Regions from separate parts of the Homo sapiens genome. Here all the other regions are linked to region 2. Evidence: fine-mapped expression QTL. A gene starts in region 2. Each other region holds a variant in brackets. All regions are shown on one strand. Distances are from middle to middle. Region 1 has its middle 35 kb from the start of DRAM1-AS1. Region 2 holds the start of DRAM1 (DNA damage regulated autophagy modulator 1). Region 3 overlaps DRAM1 (DNA damage regulated autophagy modulator 1).

What was found. PIP is the estimated chance that this variant, and not a neighbour inherited with it, causes the effect.
Region 1: its variant is fine-mapped to the expression of DRAM1 in whole blood (GTEx, PIP 0.97).
Region 3: its variant is fine-mapped to the expression of DRAM1 in whole blood (TOPMed, PIP above 0.99).

Annotation. Positions count from the first base shown.
Region 1 is chr12:101,925,745-101,931,781 of GRCh38, reverse strand. No RefSeq gene overlaps it. Among named protein-coding and RNA genes, the nearest start is that of DRAM1-AS1, 35 kb to the left of the region's middle. RefSeq lists enhancers at 112-231, 1,051-1,130 and a silencer at 1,341-1,390. The variant A/G (reference allele first, on the strand shown) is at 3,521.
Region 2 is chr12:101,875,197-101,881,233 of GRCh38, reverse strand. It overlaps DRAM1 (DNA damage regulated autophagy modulator 1), which reads right to left and starts at 3,654. Exons shown (of 7, transcript NM_018370.3): 1 at 3,314-3,654. The coding sequence starts at 3,444. RefSeq lists enhancers at 2,768-2,817, 2,958-3,047, 2,686-3,467, 3,628-3,677, 3,468-4,250 and silencers at 3,268-3,607, 3,858-4,017.
Region 3 is chr12:101,912,182-101,918,064 of GRCh38, reverse strand. DRAM1 (DNA damage regulated autophagy modulator 1) reads right to left here. Exons shown (of 7, transcript NM_018370.3): 5 at 3,833-3,891. Among named protein-coding and RNA genes, the nearest start is that of DRAM1, 38 kb to the right of the region's middle. The variant C/T (reference allele first, on the strand shown) is at 2,418.

The DNA.
Region 1 (6,037 bases), 51 kb before region 2:
GGATTGTTAAAGAAGGTGAAGTTAGTCTTCCAGGCTTTCCTGTCACTCATGCTGATATTAGCCTGATGAGCAAGGGAGAGCAAGAGAGCTGGAACCCAGGAGCCAGAGTCCTCACCACTTCCTGCTGCTGCTTCAGCTCCAAGAAGACTAACTTACATGCTGCTGATCTGATATCACATCCATACATGTGACAAGACTGAGGACTGAGGAAAACAACCCAATTCAAAAACGAACTGAACAGATGTTTCTCCAAAGAAGATATATAGGTGACCAATAAGCACATGAAAAAATGACCAACATCATTAATTCTTAGGGAAATGCAAACCAAAATACTATGAGATATCACCTCACACCCATTAGGAAGGCTACTAACCAAAAAAATGGAAAATATGTCAGGTGCTATGGTTTGTGCCTGTAATCCCAGCTACTTTAGAGGCTGAGGCATGAGGATCTCTTGAGCCAAGGAATTGGAGGCCAGCGTGGGTAACATACCAAGACCCTCAAATCTCAAATAAATAAATAAATAGGAAAAAACAAATGTTGGCGAGGATGTGAAGAAATTAGAATCCTTGTGCACTGTTGGTGGGACTGTAAAATGGTACAGCTGCTATGGAAAACAGTATGGTGGTTCCTCAAAAAATTAAAAATAGAATTTCCATATGATCCAGCAATCCCACTTCTTGGTATATACCCAGAAGAATTTAAAGCAGGGTCTCAAAGAAATATTTGTACACACATGTTTGTAGCAGCATTATTCACAATGTGGAAGCAACTGAAGTGTCCATCAACAGATGATTGGTAAACAAAGTGGGTATAAATGTACAATGGAATCTTACTAAGCCTTAATATGGAAAAAATTCCAACACATGCTACAACATGGATGGTGCTGAGACATTACGCTAAATGAAATAAGCCAGTCACAAAAAGAGAAATGCTGTATGATTCCACTTATATGAGGTATCTAGAATAGTCAAAATCATAGAGCCAGAAAGTAGAATAATGGTTGCCAGGGGCTGGGGCAAGAGGGAATCAGGAGTTATTGTTCAATGGGCACAGAGTTTCAGTTTTACAAGATGAAGAGGGTTCTGGAGATGGATGGTGGTGATGGTTGCACAACATTATGAATGTATTCAAAACCACTGAACTGCACACTTAAAAATGGCTACGACGGCCAGGCGTGCGTGGTGGTGGCTCACGCCTATAATCCTAACACTTTGGGAGGCCCAGACAAAAGGATCTCTTGAGTCCAGGAGTTTGAGGCCAGCCTAGGCAACATAGTGAGACCCTATCGCTACAAAAAATACAAAAATTAGCCAAGCACGGTGGTGCACACCTGTAGTCCCAGCTACTTGGGAGGCTGAGGTGGGAGGATCACTTGAGCCCAGAGGTTGAGGCTGCAGTGAGCCAAGATCACACCACTGCACTCCAGTCTGGGTGGCAGAGTGAGATCTGTCTCAAAAAAAAAAAATCACCAAGATGATAAAATTTATGTTATATTTTACCACAGTAAAGTAATAATAATGGTCACCAAGAGTGTTCAAACATAATAATAAAATGATAATAGTAATAAATTAAAATAACTTTTTTAAAAAGTGAGCACTGAGGACTTCTTTTACCCAGCCCTGTGATAGCCTAGATGGTCCTTTCCCTGGGCCTCACCATGACTTCTCCTTTGGGAAGTCCAGACAGACGGACGACAACCCCCAGTCCCTCTTACCGCACCATCCAGAAGCAAAAGATACCAGGAGTTGAGAGTCATAAGAACCCACACCTCACAGCCACCAGAGCCTGAATCGTACTGAAAGCCTGCTGCACCCTGTCTCACTGCGCAGTGGAATCCTTGGCCTCTTCAGTGCTCCTCCTCAGGCTGTGGTGGTTGCAGGAGAACTGATATGGCTTGGCTATGTCCCCACCTAAAATCTCATCTTGAATTGTAATAATCCCCACGTGTCAAGGGGGGCCCAGGTGGAGATAATTGAATCATGAGGGCGGTTTCCCCCATACTGTTCTTGTGATACTGAGTTCACACGAGATGTGGGGGTTTTATAAGGGGCATCCCCCCCTTTGCTCGGCTCTCATTCTCTCTCCTGCCACCATGTGAAGAAGGATGTGTTTGCTTCCCCTTTCGCCGTGATTATAAGTTTCCTGAGGCCTCCCTAGCCATGTGAAACTGTAAGCCAATTAAAGCTCTTTTCTTTATAAATTACCCAGTCTCTGGTACGTCTTTATTAGCAGCGTGAGAACTGACTCATACAAGAACTGATCCCCATTCCCACCAAAGACCAGGTGTATCATACAAACCCTCTCTTACTGTTTCTACTCCTGATTCCTATCACCTGCTCCCACCCCCACAATTCTTAGATGCCCAGACTTCAACCAGGACCTGCCGTTTTGAAGTGGCAATCCAAACATTTCACCCATTTTTCTAAACTTGCCAGCTTAAGGGTTTCATTTCTCAAGGCCTTATATTATATAACCCTAGAAAAGCTGACAAATTAATTCATACTCCTAAGGCAGTGACTGGGAATCACACTGTCAGCATGGCAAAGGTTAACCGTAGGAGTCACAGTCCTGGGTTTGGTTCTAGCCCCATCATTTGGTATCTGGTGACAACCTCGCTACATCTTAATTTCCTCATGAATAAAATAGGGTTAACTATGAGGAAACGCCCTCCTTACAGTGTCTGTGATATAGGAAATAATCAGTATTAACAGAACATAAGTGATCATGTAAGCAGATGAAGAAATATCCTTAGTTTTTAGGTGAAAGTCCCTGAATACCTGGTACTGAAAAAATTATGATGCCTCCCCATAGGTAATTCCAAATAATATTTTCTTTTTCCAAATGACATAAAGGATACATTTAGGCAAACATAAAGCTGATTATTTCCAAGTCAATTTTTAAGTTTCTCAAAGGTAAAGTTTCTTTCCTCTCTCTCTCTCTCTCTCTCTCTGACTACTGAATTGCTGGTGTCCCCCACTCATTGAGTCATTCTGCAGTAACCACCAAGCTACAAGGTCAGGGAGGATCAAAAGGTCTGTGGGTTGCCCCTGGTGTTCTGTCCTGGATCACTTTGCCAGAGAGGAGAGAATATTGTGCTTGATTGTTGATGTCTGTAAAAATACAATCGTCTCCAGCTGGGCATGGTCGCTCACGCCTGTAATCCTAGCACTTTGGGAGGCCGAAGTGGGCGGACCATGAGGTCAAGAGATCAAGACCATCCTAGCCAACATGATGAAACCCCGTCTCTACTAAAAATATAAAGCTTAGCTGGGCGTGGTGGCACACGCCTGTCGTCCCAGCTACTCGGGAGGCTCAGGCAGGAGAATCACTTGAACCCGAGAGGCGAAGTTGCAGTGAGCCAAGCTCGCACCACTGCACTTTAGCCTGGTGACAGAGCGAGACTCCATCTCAAAATTTAAAACAAACAAACAAAACAACAACAACAACAACAAAAATACATCCTCTCAAAAGATAGGGAAGAAGTGTAAGACAAGTAACAGGACTTCAGCGAGATACC[A/G]AAAAGGAAGTGAGTACAAACTGGAAGAGGCATTGACAAAACTTTTGCAACTAATTGCAAAAGTTTGCAAGATCATAATGAAAAACCCAAGTGAACTGGAGACACTCTTGCCCATAAAAAGAAGACATGTCCGGGTTGGGGTAGGAGGCAGAAGATAGGTGAGTTCTGCTGTCAGCAGAAAGAGGAGCACACAGCCTTGCATTCCCTGCAGTAGGTGGTTACATAAAAGAGGGAACAGAAGAGGTGTGTGTAGAAGACCCGTGACCAAGTTGGCAGGCCTCTGTCCCACACCATCTACTGCAAAATCCACATTTGCACCTGATCTACAGTCATGGATGACTGAGTCACCAAGGAAACATGAACTTATATTCAGCATCCTCAGGTTAGAAGAAAATGTGTGTAATCACAAAGATTCCTGGCTTGTCCGAGTGCAGTGGTGTTTACAACTAATTGATCGCAACCAGTTACAGATTTATTTATTTTAGTTTAGTTTTCTTTGAGACAAAGTCTCGTTCTATAGCCTAGATTGGAGTGCAGTGGCACGATCTCTGCTCACTGCAACCTCTGCCTCCCCAGGCTCAAGCGATACCCCCCTCTTGCCTCCTGAGTAGCTGAGACCACAGCTTGCACCACCATTCTTGGCTAATTTTTTAAATTTTTTTGTAGAGATGGGGTCTTGCTATGTTACTTAGGCTGGTCTTGAACTCCTAGACTCAAATGATCTACCCGCCTCAGCCTCCCAAAATGTTGGGATCACACGCGTGAGCCACCATGCCCAGCCCAGTTACAGATTTTTTTCTTCCTTCTCCACTCTCACTGCTGCACTTGACCAGCCTTTAAAAAAAAAAAAAAAGAAAGAAACAAAAAAGAAAAAGAGGTTCCTAACAAAAATATTCAAGTAAAAAAGTTCTAAAGGCAAGATAACATTTGCAAAATAACAGATGAAGTTTCCAACATCCCACTCACTGGAATTTGTCCTAGAGATTTCCTTGCACATGTGTGATATGATGTATGTACAAGGTCATCTACTTGTAATTGCAAAAATTTGGAAACCACATAATTGCTCATCAGATAGGGAACTTGCTAAATAAATGATGGCACAGCCATACAATGGAATACTGTAAGGTATAAAACAAAGCAAATTAACCTTAAAAATGAGGGAGATCTCTATGTATTGATAAAGGAAACATCTCCAAGATACATTGCTATGTCAAAAAAGTAAGGCTCAAAACTGTTCTTACAGTATACTAATTTGGGGTGAAAATGAAAAGGAAAACGTTAAAATATTTGTTTTGGCTTGTATTTTCATAAAAATCTGATAAAAAGTGGATACCTAGGCTGAGCACAGTGGCTCACACCTGTAATCTCAGCACTTTGGGAGGCCAAGGCAGGCGGATCACTTGAGGTCAGGAGTTGACCAACATGGTGAAACCCTGTCTCAACTAAAATACAAAAGTTAGCTGGGTGTGGTGGTGGGCACCTGTAATACCAGCTACTTGGGAAGCTGAGGCAGGGAGAACTGCTTGAACCCAGGAGGCATAGGTTGCAGTGAGCTGAGATCATGCTACTCCACTTCAGCCTGGGCGACAGAGCAAGGCTCTGTCGTTAAAAAAAAAAAAAAAAAAAAAAAAGTGGATATCTGCAAGGAGAGAGTGAATTGAGTAAATGCAGGTAGGGAAAAGCAAAAAGGCTTTTCACAGTATACCTTTTCATATTGTTTTGAGTTTTGAATTGTGAAAATATTACTCAAATTTTTTGAAATAAATGGTTCAGGGGGTGAGGGTTGTGAGTGGGGGCAGCTGAATCCACTTATATAAAAATGATCTTTCCTGTGAAGGCAAGTCTGTACTGAAAAAAAAATGCAAAAGAAAAAAATGAAATAAAAATGACTCTAGATGATAGTTGTTTACTGTATTTTCATATTAGGGGAACTCTTGTGTATCCATTATCAGTCAGGACTCTTACAGGTAAAATCATCTGAAGTCTAACTCCAGTTTATTGAAGTTAGAGACTTTATCAGCTCATGTAACTGAGTCGTCCAGAGGTGGAACTGGCCTTGAGGATGGTGGGGCACAGAGCAGTGCTCCTTGCTGAGGAACTACCTAAACCACAGGCTTTCCAGGCACCCCACGCCACCCCGTCTTAAACCACAAGGCAGATTGTTGACATCTTCCTCAGCATTTTCCAAGCATGGACTCTGGAGGTCACTGCCACCTCCAACATGGGTCTGGAAAACTGCTACCCTTCATTTTAGAAGATGAATCTGGGGCCGGGCGCAGTGGCTCACGCCTGTAATCCCAGCACTTTGGGGAGCCAAGATGGGTGCATCACCTGGGGTCAGGAGTTTGAGACCAGCCTGGCCAACATGGTGAAACCCTGTCTCTACTACAAATACAAAAATTAGCTGGGCGTGGTGGCATGCGCCTGTAATTCCAGCTACTTGGGAGGCTGAGGCAGGAGAATCGCTTGAACCCGGGAGGCAGAGGTTGCTGTGAGCCGAGATCACGCCATTGCACT
Region 2 (6,037 bases):
GTCTCGGTTCACGGCAACCTCTGCCTCCCTGGTTCAAGCGATTCTCATGCCTCAGCCTCCTGAGTAGCTGGGATCACAGGAATGTGCCACCACGCTCAGCTAATTTTATATATTTTTAGTAGAGACTGCACCCAGCCTTCTTCTCTATGTGTGGTTCTTATCCACATCTTGTTGCTGCACCAAGGACTTGTTTTCTAGGAGCGGGCAGGGGCAATCCAGTGCTCCGGCTGCTCAGGTAAGCAGAGAGCAAACAACCTAAAAGACCCAGGCACACATGGGCAATCAGTACAAATGTTTGTTGTGTGTTGGCTGAGAACTCCTGGCAACAAGGGGGCATGCCTTTTTCTCCTGTAATTCTGCTTTTCCTGAAGGCTTCCTTGTTAAATTTTAAACCCCTTCCTTGTAGGGTCTGTGATTTGAGCATCTCATAAGTGGTTCACCTTGTCAGCTTATTTTCCCATTTCTGAATGTCTCCCATTTCAAGTTCACCTTAGAGTGATATTAATCACAACTACATCAGACACCTCTATGAACATTCAAAACCTGCCTTTGACAGCCTGGCCAATGAATATCACGTATTATCTGTCCTCAACCTTCAGATCTGGGACAAACATGACTACTGTTTTCTCAATAAGAAGCACTGCAGGCTGGGTGTGGTGGCTCACGCCTGTAATCCCAACACTTTAGGAGGCTGAGGCAGGTGGATCATCTGAGGTCAGGAGCTTGAGACCAGCCTGGCCAACATGGTGAAACCCCGTCTCTACTAAAAATACAAAAATATTAGCTGGGCGTGGTGGCAGGTGCCTGTAATCCCAGCTACTTGGGAGGCTGAGTCAGGAGAATTGCTTGAACCAGGAGGTGGAGGTTGCACTGAGCCGAGATTGCACCATTGCACTCCAGCCTGGGCGACAGAGCAAGACTCTGTCTTAAAAAAAAAAAAAAAAAAAAAAAAAAAGGAAGCATTGCAGGACACAGCAAGATGCCATCTCTACAAATACAAAAAAAAATTAAAAATTAGCTGGGCATGGTTGTGCATGCCTATCTACAGTCCCCAGCTATTCAGGAGGCTGAGGTGGGAGGATCAATGGAGCCCAGGAGGTCGAGGCTGCAGTGAGCTGTGATCCCACCACCACACCACAGACTGGGCAACAGAGCGAGACTTTGTCTGAAAAAACAAACAAACAAACAAACAAAAGAAGCAGCACTGCAGGTAGAGCAGCTCTTTACCTTTTTTTTTTTTTTCTGAGATGGAGTCTCGCTCTGTCACCAGGCTGGAGTGCAGTAGCTCTGTCTCGGCTCACTGCAACCTCTGCCTCCCGGGTTCAAGCAATTCTGCCTCAGCCTCCCGAGTAGCTGGGACTACAGGCGTGCACCACCACGCCCAGCTAATTTCTGTATTTTTAGTAGAGATGAGGTTTTACCATGTTGGCCAGGATGGTCTCGATCTCTTGACCTCATGATCCGCCAGCCTCGGCCTCCCAAAGTGCTGGGATTACAGGCGTGAGCCACTGTGCCCAGCTGAGCAGGTCTTTACTTTTACACAAGTCTAGAAGGATCTATCCTGCTTCAGAAGCAAGATGATGGCACTTGGGCCTGAGATGTGCCATGAGAAACCAAGCCTAGGTTTCTTCCAAGCATAATACCAGATGGGAGGGCCAGGCGTGGTGGCTCACGCCTGTAATCCCAACACTCTGGGAGGCCAAAGCAAGGGGAATGCTTGAGCCCAGGAGTTTAAGACCAGCCTGGGCAATATAGTGAGACTTTGTCTCTACTGAAAATAAAAAATAATAACAATAAATGGAAAAAACCGAAAGGCCAGATGAGAACATCTTGATATACATAACATCTCCTTTCATAGGCAAAAACCACCATCATTACTGCAAATTTGCACTATTCTACCTATTGCTGTATTCCCTGCATCTTGTAAATGCTGGTTCCCTGGGAACACTGGCTCACACCTGTAATCCTAGCATTTTGGGAGGCCAAGGCAAGAGGATCACTTGAGGTCAGGAATTTGAGACCAGCCTGACCAACATAGTGAAACCCTGTCTCTACTAAAAATACAAAAAAATTAAGCCAGGTGTGGTGGTGCACGCCTGTAATCTCAGCTACTTGGGAGGCTGAGGCAGGAGAATCGCTTGAACCCGGGAGGCAGAGGTTGCGGTGAGCCGAGATTGTGTCACTGCACTCCAGCCTGGGCGACAGAACAAGACTCTGTCTCAAAAAAATAAAAAAAATTTTAAAAAATGCTAGTCCCCTCTTGCTCGATCTTTGTTTCCCCTTTCTCCACACTCCTCACCCCCACCCCCAAAAAAAGGAAAAAAACAAACAAACAAACAAAAAAACACAGAACATTGCTCACCAGACAGAATGGCTGCAGGGAAGAAGACGCCCTACATTTTCTATCATAGCAGTAACAAACCTTGGGTGTCACCAACCTTATCATCCGTTCACCAACCAATGCCTGTCCAGAGGGGTCACACTACTTAGATAAGGATGGATGGTTCTAACGTTTAAAGAATCCTGCCACTATGAGAAAGGCACTGAGCTGGAACCCACATAGGAGGATCAGACCACTGTCCCTGGCACTGAAGTGCCCCTCAGGAAGGTAGAGGCCAAAGCACAGGAAAAGTGAATGGGTAAAATAACACAAAAGATGTCACAAGTTGTTGACAAGTTGAGGACTTTGGGGTCACAGTGCCCAGAGGTGTCTGGTGCAGCTCCAGAGAATTTAAGCCAGACTCCCAGAGACCTGGGGGCAGCACAGTGTTGCTTTCTGCATGGCCGGGTGTGAATTCTGCTCCTACCATTAACTAGTGTGACATCAGTGTCACGTTGATGATATTTCATCAACTTTACACCACCGCTCGCTTGCGGGAATAATAAGCCCAAACATCCACTTCAAGGGATGTTGGGATGCAGAAGTGAAAATAGTGGCTGTTTAGCATATACCTGGATCTACCTCTTGTATAATATATGTCATCTATCAGAACCCATCTTGTTTCAATATCGCCTAAGAACGTCCTGCTGAGATTCTGTCCCATACCCAGAATGAAAGCTCTACCATCTATCCTGAACCTCTCCTTGCTGCCACCCTGTTCCATGCTCCGGGTACAGGCAGAAGTGCTCAGCGCCGCACCCGCTGCCTCCCTAAACATCCCAGGCTATCGGGAGCACCTCTCCTCCTGCTCCCACCTCTGCCTGACCACACGACGCCCCAAGCTGGGTCCGGACGCCTTCCCTCCCCGTCGGCAGCGCTCCCTGTGGTCCCTGTGCCTGCTCCTGGGGCCCTGACGCCCACCCTGCCACTCACCTGATATACGGGAGGAAGGGGTTGACGTGCCCGGAGAGCACGGCGACCACGTAGGAGATAATGAAGGCGGCTGACGACCAGGTCACCAAGAGGAAGGGGACGAAAGCCATTCCCCTCAGGAAGCACAGCATCGCGCCGCCGCCGCCGCCGACGGAGTGCTGCGCCCAGCGGGGCCGGGCGCCGGGTTGCTCCGGGCTGCCTGGAGGCGGCGGCCGGGCGCGTACACTCACGGACGGTGGGAGGGGAGGCTCCGCGACGGCCGGGGCAGGCCCAGCCCCGGAGGGAGGGGAAGCGCGAGGAGCGGAGCGAGGCTGCGGGCGGCGAGGCTGCCGGGCCAGAGTGGGTGGGGCGCGGGCTGCCCGGGCTTGTTGCGAAACGAGTGAAGTCACAAAGCGGCCCGGCAGGGTCGGAGGCGCCCGGCGAGCTCCAAGCGGACGCGACTACGGAGCCGCCGGAGGGGACGCGGGGTCGGGTTCCTTTCGCTTTTGGTTTGGACACTCGGCGGAGGCCGGGTTGGGCGCGGACGGGCGGCGTGGGGTCACTGGCGGGGACGCCCGCTCTGGCCTTCCCACTCTGGCCCTACCGCGCTGGCTCTTGCGCAACTCTGGAGAAAAGGATTTATTTCTCCCAACCCCTCCCTCCCGGGGGATTTCCGGAGTGCCGGGCCTCGCACCCCGAGGGCGCCCCCTCCGAGGTCCCGCCGCCGGCGCTTCGCAGCAGTGAGAGTGGCCACCGCGTGGTGACACCCATGCCATCCGGTCGCGCTGCTGCTGCGGGGGTCGGGCAGAAGTGTTCAATGAGGTTCGCCAGGTCACGGGGCGCAGATGTGGCTCCCACCTCAATGGTGAACACCCGAAAACCCAGACAGGGTGGGAACGGGTGGGGTGGAGAGTACGCGGGTGGGGTGCGGGGCAGGCGGGTGGGACTGCGCGCCCACGGAGCCGGGAGGCCCATTGTGCTGCTTTCCAGGAGAGCGCAACTGGAGAATATTTCCTGGAAATAAGATTTCCCAGGCCGGGCGCCGTGAATAGCCATCACTTTGGGAGGCATCCAAAAGCCATCACCCCTGGAATGCCACCACTTTGGGAGGCCGAGTTGGGAGGATCGCTTGAACCCAAGAACTAGAGATCAGCCTGGGTAACATAGCGAAACCCCTCTTCTACAAAAAAAAAAAAAAAAAATGAAAAAGAAAAAAAGCCGGTTCCAGTTACTCGGGAGACTGAGTTGGGATGATCACTTGAGCCTTGGGGGTCGAGGCTGCAGTGAGCCTTTATCACACCACTTCACTCGGCCTGGGTGACAGAGCAAGACCTTGTCTCAAAAAACAAACAAACAAAAAAAAAACAAAAAAAACTCCCCTCCAGGTTCTGGAGTAGCCCAGACTCGGAGCCTTGGCCTAAGATGATTAATAGTGACTTGATACATTTCAAGCCCTGTGAAAGGGATTTGTGTTCTGGAGGCACTTATAATATAAGCACATGATTTTGATAGTTTAGGGAGTCTGAGCCCAACATATGTGGCCAAAATTGTTGGGTCATTGGTGACCAAAGATAGGTTCCTTTCAGCCACAAACACATTTCATGGGCGCCATGCTAGGCTACAAAGATGAAATAGTAATAGTACCCTCAGGACGAGGACACTCATAGATCAAAATAACAAAATTAGGCCAGGCGTGGTGGCTCATGCCTGTAATCCTAGCACTTTGGGAGGCCAAGGTGGGTGGATCACCTGAGGTCAGGAGTTCGAGACCAGCCTGGCCAACATGGTGAAACCCCATCTCTACTAAAAATACAAAAAATTAGTCAGGCATCATGGCTCACGCCTGTAATCCCAGCTACTCAGGAGGCTGAGGCAGGAGAATCGCTTGAACCTGGGAAATGGAGGTTTTCTCAGTGAGCTGAGATCACACCACTGCATTTCAGCCTGGGTGAGAGAACGAGACTCTGTCTCAAAAATATAAATAAATAAAAACAAAATTATGTTATGTGGTTTATTAAATGGAAAGGAGAGGATTTTAAAAAGTAGAGACATGCCCAGAGCTGAGGGCCAGGGGCCTGGGCTCAGAGGAAGGACCACGGAGGTTTTCTGACAGATGACATCAGAGTTTTCAAAAGGAAGTAATTACTAACCAGGCAAAGAAAAATAAGATTAGCATTCCAGGCCCAGAAAACAACTGGAGGAAATGCATACACAGAGCTTGCTTCCCTGGGACTATGAAAGCACTTAAATAAGTGTGAGGCAGCAAATGGAGAGAGAAACAAAGAGGCAAAGTCACCAGAGTCCTGCTGAGAATCTTGGATTATTTTTGGTATTAAGGAGAAAGTAAGAACATGGGCAGACTAGTATTTCAAGAGATCACTGTGGCCGTGGAGTGAGTGCCCGCCATACAAAACAAAATAGAAAATTTAAAATAAGGCTTTTTAAAAACCACAAAAGCTGGCCAGGCATGGTAGCTCACAGTTCTGTAATCCCGGCGCTTTGGGAGGCCGAAGCCTGGACAATATAGTGAGACCCGCAACCATATCTACAAAAAATTTAAAAATTAGCTGGGTGTGGTGTTGCATAACCTGTGGTTCCAGCTACATGAGAGGCTTACGTGGGAGGCTCACTTGAGCCCGGAGTTTGAGGCTGCAGTGAGCTATGATCACACCACTGAACTCCAGCCTGGATCACAGATCGAGACTCTATTTCAAAAACAAATAAAAATTTAAAAATGGTCAGGTG
Region 3 (5,883 bases), 37 kb before region 2:
GCGCAGTCATTTATGGAGTGAATAGAAAACCATGTGCTTTTCACATTTTTAAGATAGAAAGTGGAATATAACAGATTTTTAACTGCCTGGGAATATACTTCGATAAGCCCTTCCCAGCAGCGGGTTTGTGATAGAAGGTCTCCCCCGAGTGGCTGAAAAGTAAAGTACACCTGAACTGCTCCGCTATGCGGTCTCACTTTCAGAAAGAGGTTCTCTCCAACGGAAAGAGGAACTGAACCCCCTTCGCATGATGGGGCTAATTCCCCATATATAAGAAAGAAAAAAACCTGCCTTTTGCCTAGGTCTAACCTATTGACGAATTTGACCATTTTAAGGTTAGATTTTAAAGAAGGCTTTTTTTTTTTTTTTTGAGATGGAGTCTCACTCTTGTTGCACAGGCTGGAGTGCATTGGCATGATCTCGGCTCATTGCAGCCTCCAGCTCTCCAACTCCTGGGTACAAGCAATTCTCCTGCCTCAGCCTCCCAAGTAGCTGGGACTACAGGTGTGTGCCACTACACCAAAAATTTTTTTTTTTTTTAGTACAGACAGGGTTTCGCCATATTGGCCAGGCTAGTTTTGAACTCTAGCCTCAAGTGATCCACCCGCCTTGGCCTCCCAAAGTGTTGGAATTACAGGCCTGAGCCACCGCACCCGGCCAAGAAGCACTTTTTGATCTCCTGTCTGGATCATTCTCTTCCTCACCATCTTCTGTCTCTCTCTTGTCTTGGCAGGCTTCCATTACCTGCCAGAGTTCTCCATATTGGGAAATCCTGCTGTCTCCTCTAGCCACCCTGGTGTTCCTCCTTTACCTCTTACCTCCAGTCCAGAACAGGACTCAATAAACATTTGGTTGATAGCTGAATGAAAGAACCATCCCTCTCACTATTTAACTTCTTGCCATTGGCTTCTAACCTCGGCGTTTTACTGAAACTACTTTTTGACAAACATCACTGACTCCCTTATTGCCCAAATTGAGGGACTTCATTCCTAAAGGCTATTCAGCTGCATATGCCATAGTTAGCCATTTCCCTTGCCTTTGAAAAATGTCCTTTAGTCTCTGGGATCGTATCTCCTCTCATTCCATCGTTAGGATTAATTGCTATTGCTTCTGCATTTCCACAATGTGTTGTCTGAAGTCCAGTTCAGCATTTTTTTATTCTTCAAAGTATTACATTTAGCCATTGACAACTGGCTGTTTGCCCCTCTGAACTATAAAATCCCTCAGGATCCTCTATCCCATGGCCACCCTGCCCTCTATAATCTTTCACAGTCTTGCATGTGGTAGGGACTCATCAATGAGGTCTACCATACAGCACAAGTCTAGTTCTTCTCTCTGGTCCATGATCCCTTTACTTCTCCTTTGCTGGAGGTATTCTTCCACCTGATCCTTGGGGGAAAGAATCCTCTGTCTCTCACTAACTCTCTTCTTTCCTGGGGCATCCTTGATTCTCCTATAAGGCGTCTAGATGAACCACTACTACAGGTATCTAACAGGATGGGTTGATCTCAATGTCAAACATTTGGTTCCATGTGTTCTGATGCTTGGTCCAAAATGTCCTGGTCTACCCCATACTCTAACAACTCTACCCTACACTCTGACGACTCCCAGTCCCACCAGAAGTCTAGGCCCACCGGAGTGCAAGTGATCCTTCCACCTCAGCTTCCCAAGTAGCTGGGACTACAGGCGCATGCCACAACGTCTGGCTAATTTTTGTAGAGGCAGGATCTTACTGTGTTACCCTGACTGGTCTTCATCTCCTGGACTCAAGCAATCCTCCTGCCTCAGCCTCCCAAAGTGCTGGGATTACAGGCATGAACCACAGCACCTGGCCTAGGCCCATGTTTCTAACCTCGATATCTCATCATATCCTCAGAATCATCAACTCTAACCAAACTCATCCACTTCCACCTACTAAATTATTTATCCCTGTTAGGGGCCTTATTTCTGGTCAAGGGAATAAATTCTTTGGTTCACCTAAGATAAAAACTTAGAAGTCATCTTTGATTCATCATGCCACTTCATTCTTGTGTTAATCATTTGCCAACACCCATCAGATTTCCCCTATTTGAAACGTGAACTAGTAGAACTGCCTTCTCCTTGCCCTCCTAATGCCAAGCTCTCCAAGCCATCCCAGGCATTGCTTCTGTCTAACACTCATCTAATAATACTCTTTCTATTTGCTTTACCGTTCGAAAGTCTGCAGGTTGGGCGTGGTGGTTCACGCCTGTAATCCCAGCACTTTAGGAGGCCAAGGAGGGCAGATCACGAGGTGCAGAGATCAAGACCATCCTGGCTAACACGGTGAAATCCCGTCTCTACTAAAAATACAAAAACTAGCTGGGCATGGTGGTGCACGCCTGTAATCCCAGCTAGTGCCTGTAATCCCAGCTATTTGGGAGGCTGAGACAGGAGAA[C/T]TGCTTGAACCTGAGAGGCAGAGGTTGCAGTGAGCCGAGATCGCGCCATTGCACTCCAGCCTAGGCAACAAGGGCGAAACTCCGTCTCAAAAAAAAAAAAAGTCTTCAAAGTCTTACTCTGGTCACCTAGGCCAAGTACAAGCCTCTCTGCCTGCCTCTTACAGCCACTACACCCTTGCACAGTTATCCCCGGCTGCAGTGATTTCTCACTCTATCCTGAAATGAACTATCCACCACACTGGAGCTGGTATCATCCTCTCTACTTAACATTCCACGCTCCCTTTCACCACCAAACACCTTCATTCACACTGTCCCTCTACCCTCTTTTACTAAAGATAGATAGTTGAAGTGTTTAAGAAAGAAATTAAAGGCCAGGTGCGGTGGCTCACACCTGTAATCCCAGCATTTTGGGAGGCCGAGGTGGGCAGATCACGAGGTCAGGAGATCGAGACCATCCTGGCTAATACGGTGAAACCCCATCTCTACTAAAAATACAAAAAAGTAGCCGGGGGTGGTGGCAGGCGCCTATAGTCCCAGCTACTCAGGAGGCTGAGGCAGGAGAATGGCATGAACCCGGGAGGCAGAGCTTGCACTGAGTCAAGATTGTGCCACTGCACTCCAGCCTGGGCGGCAGAACGAGACTCTGTCTCAAAAAAAAAAAAAGAAAGAAAGAAAAGGAAGAAATTAGAGGGACGGGTGCGGTGGGTCACGCCTATAATCCCAGCACTTTGGGAGGCCGAGACGGGGGGATCACTTGAGGCCAGGAGCTCCAAACCAGCCTGGTCAACATGGGAAAAACCCTGTCTCTACTAAAAATACAAAAATTAGCCAGGCATGTGGCGCACGCCTGTGGTCCCAGCTACTCGGGAGGCTGAGGCACAAGAATCACTTGAACCCAGGAGGCAAAGGTTGCAGTGAGCTGAGATCACGCCACTTCACTCCAGCCTGGGTGACAGAGCGAGACTCTGTCTCAGAAAAGAACAAAACAAAATCAAAAATTAGCTGGGCCTTGTGGCAGGTGCCTGTAGTCCCAGCTACTTGGGAGACTGAGGCAGGAGAATCGCTTGAGCCTGGGACACAGAGGTTGCAGTAAGCTGAGATTGCACCACTGCATTCCAGCCTGGGCAACACAGCAAGACTCTGTCTCAAAAAAAAAAAAAAAGAAGAAGAAGAAGAAAGAAAGAAATTAGGAACTCAAAATTTTGAAAATACTTCCAGGAAGCATTTGGAATTACCCTGATAGCTAATTACTACATACTGCCAAATGATTGGACAGTAAATTGATTACATGCCATGTTTATTTGACATTTTGCAACTTGTTCTAAGGAACGGCAGTGATCTTCCCTATGCCTAGCCTGGCCACAAGCTCACATAACCACGTCCGACAACCACATTCACAACAACTTAAATGTTACCTTTTCTCTTGGATTCCACTCCAGCTTGGTTATGGAAATTAGTGAAGCACAGACAATCACTGAAAGAAGTAAACAGTTAAGGAAACTACAGCACACAACAGTTCCTTTAATGTTAAGACTACATTATTCTCCTAATAACATAATCATTATAAGGTGTTAAAATGTTAATACCAACATTTCTATCATCAATTAAAATGTTAATACCAACATTTCTACAATCAAACCAGTTATATTAGCTTCTTATAAACTCAAACTTCAAATTCAATGATGAGAGTTAAATCACAACACGGAAATACCTTCGCAATAGTTTTCCAGTGTGTATAGTAAAATTTATTAAAACTTGTCACTACATTTTGCACAACCCTACATGTTTCTGGATCTTCCCATTTAAACTAGCTGTTTAAATTCGGTCAAAATGACTGACGCAGCAGTCCAGGATGGTTCTTTTTGAATACTTCCCACTGAATAAAAATACTTTTTCCCTAAAATACTATTTTCCTTTCCTTTTTTTTTTTTTTTTTTTTTTTGAGACGTACTCTCGCTCTGTCACCCAGGCTGGAGTGCAATGGCGCGATCTCAGCTCACTGCAACCTCCACCTCCTGGGTTCAAGCATTCTCCTGCCTCAGCCTCCTGAATAGTTGGGATTACAAGCACCCACCACCATGCCTGGCTAATTTTTTGTATTTTTAGTAGAGACGGTGTTTCTCCATGTTGGTCAGGCTGGTCTTGAACTCCTGACCTCAGGTGATCTGCCCACCTCGGCCTCCCAAAGTGCTGGGATTACAGGCATGAGCCACCGTGCCCGGCCTAAAATACTATTTCCAAGGTAACAGCTTTAAGGAAAATTTTAAATTCCAAAGTGCCAAGGCTCATATACAAAAACAAGCTACAGAAACTCAAACTATTATCTTTAAAAAACAGACTTCTGTTGGGTAATTGGGTATAAGGTGAGCCCTTCCTTCCTGGACCAAAGATCTGGCAAATCAAAGAGATTCGCCCCATATCAGACTTCAGGGATGACTGACACATGCCTACAGTCCAGCCTAATAATGCCAGGGGCTGAGGCTCCTATCTTCCACCAGCAATACTTTCTGCATGAAGGCAGTGATAACCATTTTGATTGAACTTAGAATGCAAAAAAGAAAGCTAGAGAGAAATGGGATGCTCTAAAAAGTCTGCAAAATATTAGAAATTCAAAATGTTAGGCCGGGCGCAGTGGCTCACACCTGTAATCCCAGCACTTTGGGAGGCTGAGGCAGGCGAATCACCTGAGGTCAGGAGTTCGAGACTAGTCTGACCAACATGGTGAAACCCAGTCTCTACTAAAAACACAAAAATTAGCTGGGCATGGTGGCGTGCACCTGTAATCCCAGCTACCTGGGAGGCTGAAGCAGGAGAATCGCTTGAACCTGGGAGGTGGCAGTGAGCTGAATTTGCACCACTGCACTCCAACCTGGGCAACAGGGTGAGACTCTGTCTCAAAAAAAAAAAAAAAAAAAATGTTGAGCCAAGGAAAGTTTAGAGCCTCCTCTGAATTCAGAGTCAGCGTCATCTCTCTTAACTCCAACCCCCCGCAAATTGTGCAGAGTTTAATGCTTCTGATTCTCAAAATAAAAGAAGTAGAGAGCACAGAAGATTCTCTGATCATTTCATCACCTCACATCTGTTTCTAATAGTTTAAAAGCCTCTTAATTATTTCGTTTATTTATTCTTAGCTCCATCTTCAGTGCACCAGGTACCATTCTGGTCTGGGGGTGGGAGAAGGGAAAACTTGGTCTCAGCTCTCAGAAATATCACAACTTTGTTGGACCAGACCCAGAGAATGTACCATAGTAGACAGAAAAGAACTGGGTACAGCAATGACTGTAAGGGAAAATTATTAATTCAGAATGGAATGGGAGAAAGCTTCATTCAGTGAAACTTAATGTAAGTTGTGAAGTTTAAGGAGCTCTCTAGAGCAGCACCATCCCACAGAAATATGTGTAATTTTTAATTTTCTAATATCCAAATTTATTTATTTATTTATGTATTTGAGATGGAGTCTCGCTCT